Regions from separate parts of the Homo sapiens genome. Here region 1 is linked to region 2. The links come from fine-mapping of genetic effects on gene expression. A gene starts in region 2. The other region holds a variant in brackets. All regions are shown on one strand. Distances are from middle to middle.

Region 1 (4,393 bases), 21 kb before region 2:
AAGACTTAGGAACACATTGTACGTCTGTATCAAGACATCTCATGTACCCAGTAAGTTTACACACCTACTATATACCCACAAAAATTAAAAATAAAGATAAATAAAGATTTAGGAGTTTATGCAACTGAAATATTGAAGGCAAATGGTTTCAATAACAACCAAAAAACTAATACAGAGTTAAAGCAAACATGACAAAATTTTAATAACAGATAAAGTTAGGTGAAGTATATATAGGTAATAATGTACTATTCTTTCAAGTTTCCTGGAGATACAAATACTCAAGAGTTAAGGACAAAAACAATTAATGTAATCTTTTAAATCTATATTTAATTCTTGCCTTAAAAAGTCATTATCAATTTAATTAAACATGTAAAAATAAATTCATTTTCCCAATGACACACAACCTTATGACTGCAATTTCTTTGGTCTCTGGTGAGTGTACACACGTCTCACAATAGAAACTGCAACTATGGAGTGCCTCCAAAATCAAATAGGTATTTAAGAACCGAGCAATGCTATGAAAGTATGGGGCTACTGGGAAATCGGCATAGGCCAATGTTCCTTTATCTTGAAAAGTAGCTGATTTGTCCAGATGTGGTGGCTCATGCCTGTAATCCCAGCACTTCGGGAGGCAGAGGCGGGTGGGACACAAGGTCAGGAGTCCAAGACCAGCCTTACCAACATGGTGAAACCCTGTCTCTACTAAAACTACAAAAATTAGCCGGGTGTGGTGGTGCGCGCCTGTAATCCCAGCTACTCGGGAGGTTGAGGCAGGAGAATCGCTTGAACCCAGGAGGTAGAGGTTACAGTGAGCTGAGATCACATCACTGCACTCCAGCCTGGGTGACAGAGCGAGACTCCCTCTCAAAAAAAAAAAAAAAAAAAAAAAAAAGAAGTAGCTGATTCTTATTTTTCATATAAGCTATCTTTTCTTGGGGTTTCTTAAAAAAATGGACAGCTCCAGTTATTAACTAGTAATGCTCTTAATTTCCTAAATATAAAATTAATTTGGCTAAGAACCCAGATAACAAAGTTTATCAGAGTTAGGTCTAAATTAAGAGCAAACTGGCCGAGCACCACGGCTCATGCCTGTAATCCCAGCACTTTGGGAGGCTGAGGCAGGTGGATCACCAGAGGTCAGGAGTTTAAGACCAGCCTGGCCAACATGGTGAAACCCTGTCTCTACTGAAAAAATTAGCTGGGCGTGGTAGCACACGCCTGTAATCCCAGCTACTCAGGAGGCTGAGGTAGGAGAATCAATTGAACCCAGGAAGGGGAAGCTGCAGTGAGCTGAGATCATGCCACTGCCCTCCAGCCTGGGCGAAAGAGCAAGACTCCGTCTCAAAAATAAGTAAATAAATAAATAAATAAAACCACAATGGTATATTCTATTGTACTATAACATTTATATGTTGTCAACCTAGCTTCCACCAGAATTTGAGTTCTACAAAAACAGCAGCCTACCTTATTATTTTTGAATCCTAAGCACTAAAAGGTATACATGGCAGATACCTTTTTGTTGGATGGCTCAATCTATCAATGAATAAACTCAGGCATCTATTCTTTCCTGGCTTAACTGTGTTCTAAGTAATTAAGGCAACCTGATAAATGACCTCAAGAAAAATACCATTTACCATTATTCAACAGGCCAATGCAAGAAATGAAAACATCTTTGACTACTTTTTTTATTTTTTTTTTGAAACGGAGTTTTGCTCTTGTGCCCAAGCTGGAGTAAGTACAATGGCGCAATCTTGGCTCACTGCAACCTCTCCCTCCCGGGTTCAAGCGATTCTCCTATCTCAGCCTCCTGAGTAGCTGGGATTACAGGCACGCACCACCACGCCTGGCTAATTTTTTGTATTTTTAGTACAGACAGGGTTTCACCATGTTGGCCAGGCTGGTCTCGAACTCCTGACCTCAGGTGATCCGCCCACCTCAACCTCCCAAAGTGCTGGGATTACAGGCGTGAGCCACCACGCCTGGCCTCTTTGACAACTTTTTTAAGCTAACTATAATTAAAGCAGTATCTCCTTGCACATGCTGGCAGGCAATA[C/T]TGGAGAAAGTCACAAGATTCTATATATTGAATCCATTTCAAATTCATGATAATTACCACACCTTTATTTCACTGTTGCTGTAGGAACATTACCGAATGTCTAGTAAGAAAAAATTATTGCTATGACAATAAGCACATTTCTCATAATAAATATTTCCTGTCATATAAATTAATCATGACTTTGAATCCTTGACGCTTCCTTATTGTCTGTTACCCATTTTAAAGCCCTTTGCTGAATCTTAAGTCTAGATTAACCCCCACACTCGGTTTCTCTTCTCCCATCTACTGCCAAGCAATACTGAAGAAAGTCAGAAAATTCTGTAAATTAAGACCCTTTCAAATTCACATATCTATTTCACTGTTGCTACCTAAGAAACATGTATCCAAGTTCCTTATTCATTAAACTGATAGCTCAATCCAGTTCCCTGACAGTTCATCATATCTTTTCTATTCTCCATAAAGCTCAATCCTACCTGCAATCCCTCAATTTCCACTTTACTCAGCTTTTGTCCTCTCACCTGGTAATTATCTGCTTTAAGTTTGTCTTTCATCTTTGATTCCTAAAGTACACTTTTTCCTTTAAAGGCTAACTCCTTGCCTGTGCCTTGATCTTCTTGGGCCGTAGTGCTTCAATAATTTCCTCATTTGCATCTTCTATCTTACCCTACCTCTACTCCCATGGCTCCTTGCCCTCTGCCTGCCTTTTCTCAGATGTCATCTTCCCTTTTCAAAAAAAATACTTCAAACATATTTAAATTTGCTGGGAATAATGAACACCCAACTACCCATACTCAGAGTTAACAAAACATCTAGTCATCTGTGCTTTACATATTTTTTAAGATCTAAAATGTAAAAAATCAGTGTGGTATATGGAAACTTGAAATAAATAAATGTAAAAAATGCAGTTGATAACCTCCTTTATATCCCCATCCCATTCACTTACTCCTCAGAAGATTTTCAAGTTGACACAGTCTTACTATTCATGCCTTTTAAACTATGATTATGTTAACATGAGACCATAAATGATAGTACCGTTTTGTGTTTTTAAATGTCCTATACTTTACATACCAGGAATTATCCATGTTCCCATATGCAGAACCAGATTCAGTACACTTCTTTCAAAAGCTACATATGCTCATTCACTATCATATACAACTTATTTTTTGTTGTTGTTGTTGTTGTTGTTGTTGTTTTGTGGAGACGGAGTCTCACTCTGTCACCCAGGCTGGAGTGCAGTGGCACGATCTCAGCTCACTGCAACCTCCGCCTCCTGGATTCAAGTGATTCTCCTGCCTCAGCCTCCCGAATAGCTGGAACTACAGGTGCACGCCGCCACACCCGGCTAATTTTTTGTATTTTAGTAGAGATGGGGTTTCACCATGTTGCCCAGGCTGGTCTCAAACACCAGAGCTCAGGCAATCCGCCCACCTCGGCCTCCCAAAGTGCCAGGATTACAAGCGTGAGCCACCACGCCCGGCACACACAACTTATTATATCATCCCATTCCCTTACTTATAGACATTTAGGCTGTTTCTAAATTTTGCAACAGTGAATCTTGTTGTCATGTCACCTTGTTCACTGTGTTTCCTTCAAGTATATATCCAAGAGTGGAAGTGCTTAGTCTCAGGTTATAGGCATTTCCCATGTAGATATGGCCAGATTGCTCTTTAAAGTGATTTACCAGTTACAAATTCACCAGCAATATCTACAAGTTTCCATTTGTAGATAATAAATTCAATCAATACTTATTTTGCATGTATTGCAGGGTAAGATTAGCTAGGGGTTGGCCAGGTGCAGTGGTTCAAGCCTGTAATTCTAGCACTTTGGGAGGTCAAAGAGGGTGGATCGCCTGAGGTCAGGAGTTCAAGACCAGCCTGGCCAACATGGCAAAACCCCGTCTCTACTAAAAATACAAAAATTAGCAAGGTGTGGTGGCTCACGCCTGCAATCCCAGCACTTGGGAGGCCAAGGCGGGCAGATCACGAGGTCAGGAGATCGAGACTATCCTGGCTAACATGGTGAAACCCCATCTCTACTAAAAATACGAAATAATTAGCCAGGCGTTGTGGCGGGCGCCTGTGGTCCCAGCTACTCAGGAGGCTGAGGCAGGAGAATGGCGTGAACCAGGAAGCAGAGGTTGCAGTGAACCGAGATTGTGTCACTACACTCCAGCCTGTGCAACAGACCAAGAGTCCATCTTAAAAAAAAATTAGCTGTGAGTAAAGTAGACACTCAGATAACTACACTTCAAAAACAAACCAGTTGGCCAGGCTCAGTGGCTAATGCCTGTAATCCCACTACTTTGAGAGGCCGAGGCAGGCGAATCACTTGAGGTCAGGA
Region 2 (4,393 bases):
AAAGAAGGAAAGAAAGAGAAAAACTTAACTAGATAGCAAGTAATCAGAAAGTAAGCTTCCAGATTTTCCCATCTAGTCTAATTTTCACTCCATTTCTCTGCTCAGGAATTTTAGTTCAATGACTAAGATGTGGGAGGAAAATAATGACACTCATCTTCTTATCTTTCAGAATTTACATTAGAGAGAAAATAAATTCTGAACCCTATCCCTAGAATCAGGCAAAACCGTGGTATGACTTAAAAGCAGGACCTCAGAAATGCCTCAAATATTCACTTTTTATTTCTTCAATACCTGTTTCCTCAGCCGTAAAACTCTATGGAATGGAGACACAAACTATGTGAAAACTCCCAACATTTAGTCTCCACCCTAAAGGTATCTCCCTTATCTGAACCTGATTTCCATATCTGATTTATTTATTTATATTTATTTATCATTTTTGAGATGGAGTTTTGCTCTTTTTTACCCAGGCTGGATTACAATGGCGCGATCCCGGCTCACTGCAACCTCCACCTCCTGGGTTCAAGCAATTCTCCTGCCTCAGCCTCCCGAGTAGCTGGGATTACAGGCGCGTACCACCACGCCCAGCTAATTTTGTATTTTTAGTAGACATGGAGTTTCACCACGTTGGCCAGGCTAGTCTTGAACTCCTGAGCTCAGGTGATCCACCTGCCTCGGCCTCCCAAAGTGCTGAGATTATAGGCGGGAGCCACCACGCCCAGCGCTGATTTATTTATTTATTTATTTTTTTTTCAGTAAGTACTTTGACTACGTTTTTTTCTTGGAACATGATGAAATGACCTGCAACCAGAATGTTGAGTACTTGATGAGGCACACCCCTCATCATTCAGGAACAGTTAACTACCAAATGAAGCACACTGGAGATTGACCAGTTTGCAAATTCACTACTTCACAGCTCCAAACTAAATGCAAAACCATTCTACTAAGTAGACACTGCAAAAGTCTGATTCTGAAGTCAGCTCTACTCTAATAATTTCAGTAAGCTATTTATAGGTGTTTCTGTTTTTATGTGGGTTTTTTTTTAATCTACTCTAAATTTAAACCTGCTCCTCATTTTCAGAAGCTGAAATGAGCATAAAGTTAAATACAGGAAATATATACACTAACGAGTACAATCCACCTCCTGTTCAGTTCCTTCGTGTAAAAGGCTGCAAATAAGAAGTCTCCCAGAGAGTTTTCAATTCTCTTACAATGGTACTTCCCTTTAAAAAAAAAAAAAAAAAGTGTACTTTCTTCCAGGGATAAAGTCGGTTGTAAATTTCAATAAGAAAGGTAAGAATACAATTATTTTTACTGGCAATAGCCAAATTAACACCAATTTTAGAAGATATCAGTCATGTCAGACACGATTCTCAAAGTCTCTTTCACTAACACTTAGGTCATAATAAACGACTCTCAAAACATGGAATAAAAGGGCCTAACCTTAATTTTTTAAGGCTCTAGGAAAGATATTTGCTCAACTTTCCATAGCTAGTATTTTTAATGGATGCACATGCAAGGGATAAATGATATTTTTCATAGTTGGTATTCTAAAGGGGTATACATCCAAGGTATAACTGATATTTTTCAGAGCTGGCATTTTTAATGGGTGCACACGCAAATGATAAATTATGTATAACCTATCGCCACAGACATTTGAAGGCCTCTTCCACCAGAGGATCAGGTCTAAGCCCATGAACCAAGTTATTGATTAGCAATGGTTTCTGTTGAGACAAGGGATGGCAGGAAGTATCACGTTTAATGGCACTACCGTGGCTCTAGCTAGGGTCTGTTTTCTATTGGGCCTCCCCAGAAACAAGTAAAATATTTTTTTAAAGATTTTTAGAAAAATGCAAGGTAAGTTCAAGAGACCTCGCCCGAGGTTCCACAGGTTTCCTCACTCACCTGGTGGGCCCTTTTGAAGGCAACCCCCTCCACACCTCAATTCCCTCAGCTCTCTCCTCCTTTTTCAATAAAGGCGTTTCTCTCCCCTTTCGGTTCCTTCTCCGCGCCAAGGCGCCCGCTAGCCCCCGGCAAAGGGGGCCCGCCTTCCTCTCAGGTGCCTTTCTCCCGGCCGCCACCCCCTCTCCCGCCCGTGGATGCCGGCCCCCGCCCCCGCAGCCACCACTGGGCGCCCCTTGCCCATCACCCAGACTTCGCACCCTCCACACTCCCGCTTCCGCCCGTCGCCTTGGGCCTTAGCGGCACCCGCACCGCACCCCAGCGCCACCCGGCAACACGCCCCCCGCTCCCGGCCCCCTTACCACACATGATGCCGGAGACACGGCCCGCGAGGCCAGGGGCGAGTGGCTGGCGGGATCGGGGGTGCACACACGAGCTTCGGTGGGCAATCTGCGGGCTCGGGGGCCGGGGTGGCGCCGACACGACTCCCTCGGGGATGCGACGGCCAAGGCAACGACAGCCTTCTCCGCCTCCCGGGCTCCGCCAGCAACCGCCGCCGGGCCCCGCCCCTCGGCGCGCAGCGCGCCGCCGCCCGTAGGCTCCATTGAACCGCTCACGCGCCGCTCACGCGCAAGTCCCGCCTCCCAGCGCTGCCCCGCCCCCCGAGCCCACGCAGGCGCTGGACTGCTGGCGGCGGCGACGTGGCAGTGGCTCGTGGCCGCGTCCGCCTGGAGTTCCTGGAGACGCCCGCCCCGGGGCGAGCCGCGGGAGGGACCGAGCCGAGAGGGAGGGAGAAACTCAGCACCTGGCAGGGAATGACGGAAAGAGAAGGATGGAATTGTTAGCAAAGCAATAGCCCGGGTGCGTGCCCCGTGCAGCCCCAGGCCCCAGGCGCCAGCACTGCACGAAGCGAGGAAAGAGGAGGAAAAAAGCAGGAAGTATGAAAAGGGAATCCTGGGGAACATAAGGCTGAAAAAAATTGCAAAGAATTAGGTTGAGGTGGGAGGAGAGAGATAACAAAATTCTTGACTGTAAAGCCCCAAAGGTCAGCCTCTCTGGTAATAAGCAATTCAATTCCTTGTGTAATATGCTTGGCCCCTAAAAGCCCTCCGCATCCGTTGCCTCCATAACCCTCAGTTTATTGTGGAGGGGTAGAGGAGGAATGTAAGGCTCAACTATCCGACTATGAGCCTGGACGTAAGAAACTGCTGGCCCACCTCCTCCCATGACCCACCTGAGACGGCTAGGAATTCCCTAGCTTTAACAGCCGCGCGTTTGACTTACGAACGATTCATTCTATGAATTAATGCGCCATGTCTGACAAGAGAGACTTGATTAGAGAGGGATGATGTTTCTGAGAATTTATTACCTGGGCATTTGCTTTAAACAGCCTTAAATGGTATCTTTAGTCAAATGTGGAGTAATCAGAACTCTATAATGGCTCTAGAGTAGAGTAGTATCAAAAACGTACATGGCACACAGAATTCCTGGAGTGCTGACTGCTGTTCATGTGTCTGGTCTTAGCCTGCTGACTGCTGTTCATGTGTCTGGTCTTAGCCGTCCTTCCAGCCCTATACACTCCCAACAGGCTCAACAGGTAGTTCCTCAACTGGGCCAAGATTCTCAAATCTTTTGCACACTTTGGTTACTCTGCATAGAATCCCCACCACGTCTCTGTTTAGATGCTACCTCTTCAGGAAAGCCTTTTTTATCCCCCCTAGACAGACTTGGAGACATGCATTAACCTCTTACTCTTTGAGCTACTCACTGTAAAGAAATATTCTTTGATATTTTATGATTTTCTGTATTTTCCCACTGGGCTGTAAGTTTCTTGAAGCTAGAACTAGATTTTACATACCCAACACTTTTAGACCACAGCACAAAGTAAAAGATCAAATTTATTTTGGAATGAGTGAAAAAAAGTCCTATTTTCTTAGCGGAATTAACCTTCTATGGCTGGTTATATGATTAAGTGAGCATAAGGCTTTCAGTTCTTCTTACGGGGAAAAGTGCCTTTTTTCACTTGCCTCAGAGAAGCTGAAAAATGTCACATTTAACTAAGCAGAGTATTTCTCACCTAAAAGCCCTTTTGATATTTCAATCCCTTAAACAGGTCCCTGGATCACCCAGAGCAAAGTTTAAAAAAAAAAAAAACAGTGAGCTTTTTGGTAATAATACATTTCTTAATTCAAGAAACAAAAGACTGTGGATATACATCTAGCCTCAGAACCCTCATCTAAGGCTCTGGTTAGAACTCCGTTGTATTACCTAAAAGCCAAGGTATGGTTCCAATGCTTAAGCAACATCTTTGTGCACTGGCAGCAAACCTGTCAATGCCACAAAGAAAATGTCAGCAGTACTACCAGAGTTCTCATGCTCCAACTATAGTAATCTATTTAACCCTTTGCTTTCTTCTTCTGCCTGCTACTCCACCACAATGACTATCAATTTGTCTTATCCATCTCCACTCAACAAACTATTTTGGAAGATATTT

What was found. PIP is the estimated chance that this variant, and not a neighbour inherited with it, causes the effect.
Region 1: its variant is the best candidate, but not a certain one, in a credible set for the expression of GFPT1 in whole blood (INTERVAL, PIP 0.73).

Annotation. Positions count from the first base shown.
Region 1 is chr2:69,364,129-69,368,521 of GRCh38, forward strand. The region is part of intron 3 of GFPT1 (glutamine--fructose-6-phosphate transaminase 1); the gene reads right to left. Among named protein-coding and RNA genes, the nearest start is that of GFPT1, 21 kb to the right of the region's middle. The variant C/T (reference allele first, on the strand shown) is at 2,054.
Region 2 is chr2:69,384,804-69,389,196 of GRCh38, forward strand. GFPT1 (glutamine--fructose-6-phosphate transaminase 1) reads right to left here and starts at 2,424. Exons shown (of 20, transcript NM_001244710.2): 1 at 2,262-2,424. The coding sequence starts at 2,268. RefSeq lists silencers at 2,004-2,673, 2,734-2,843 and an enhancer at 2,216-2,775.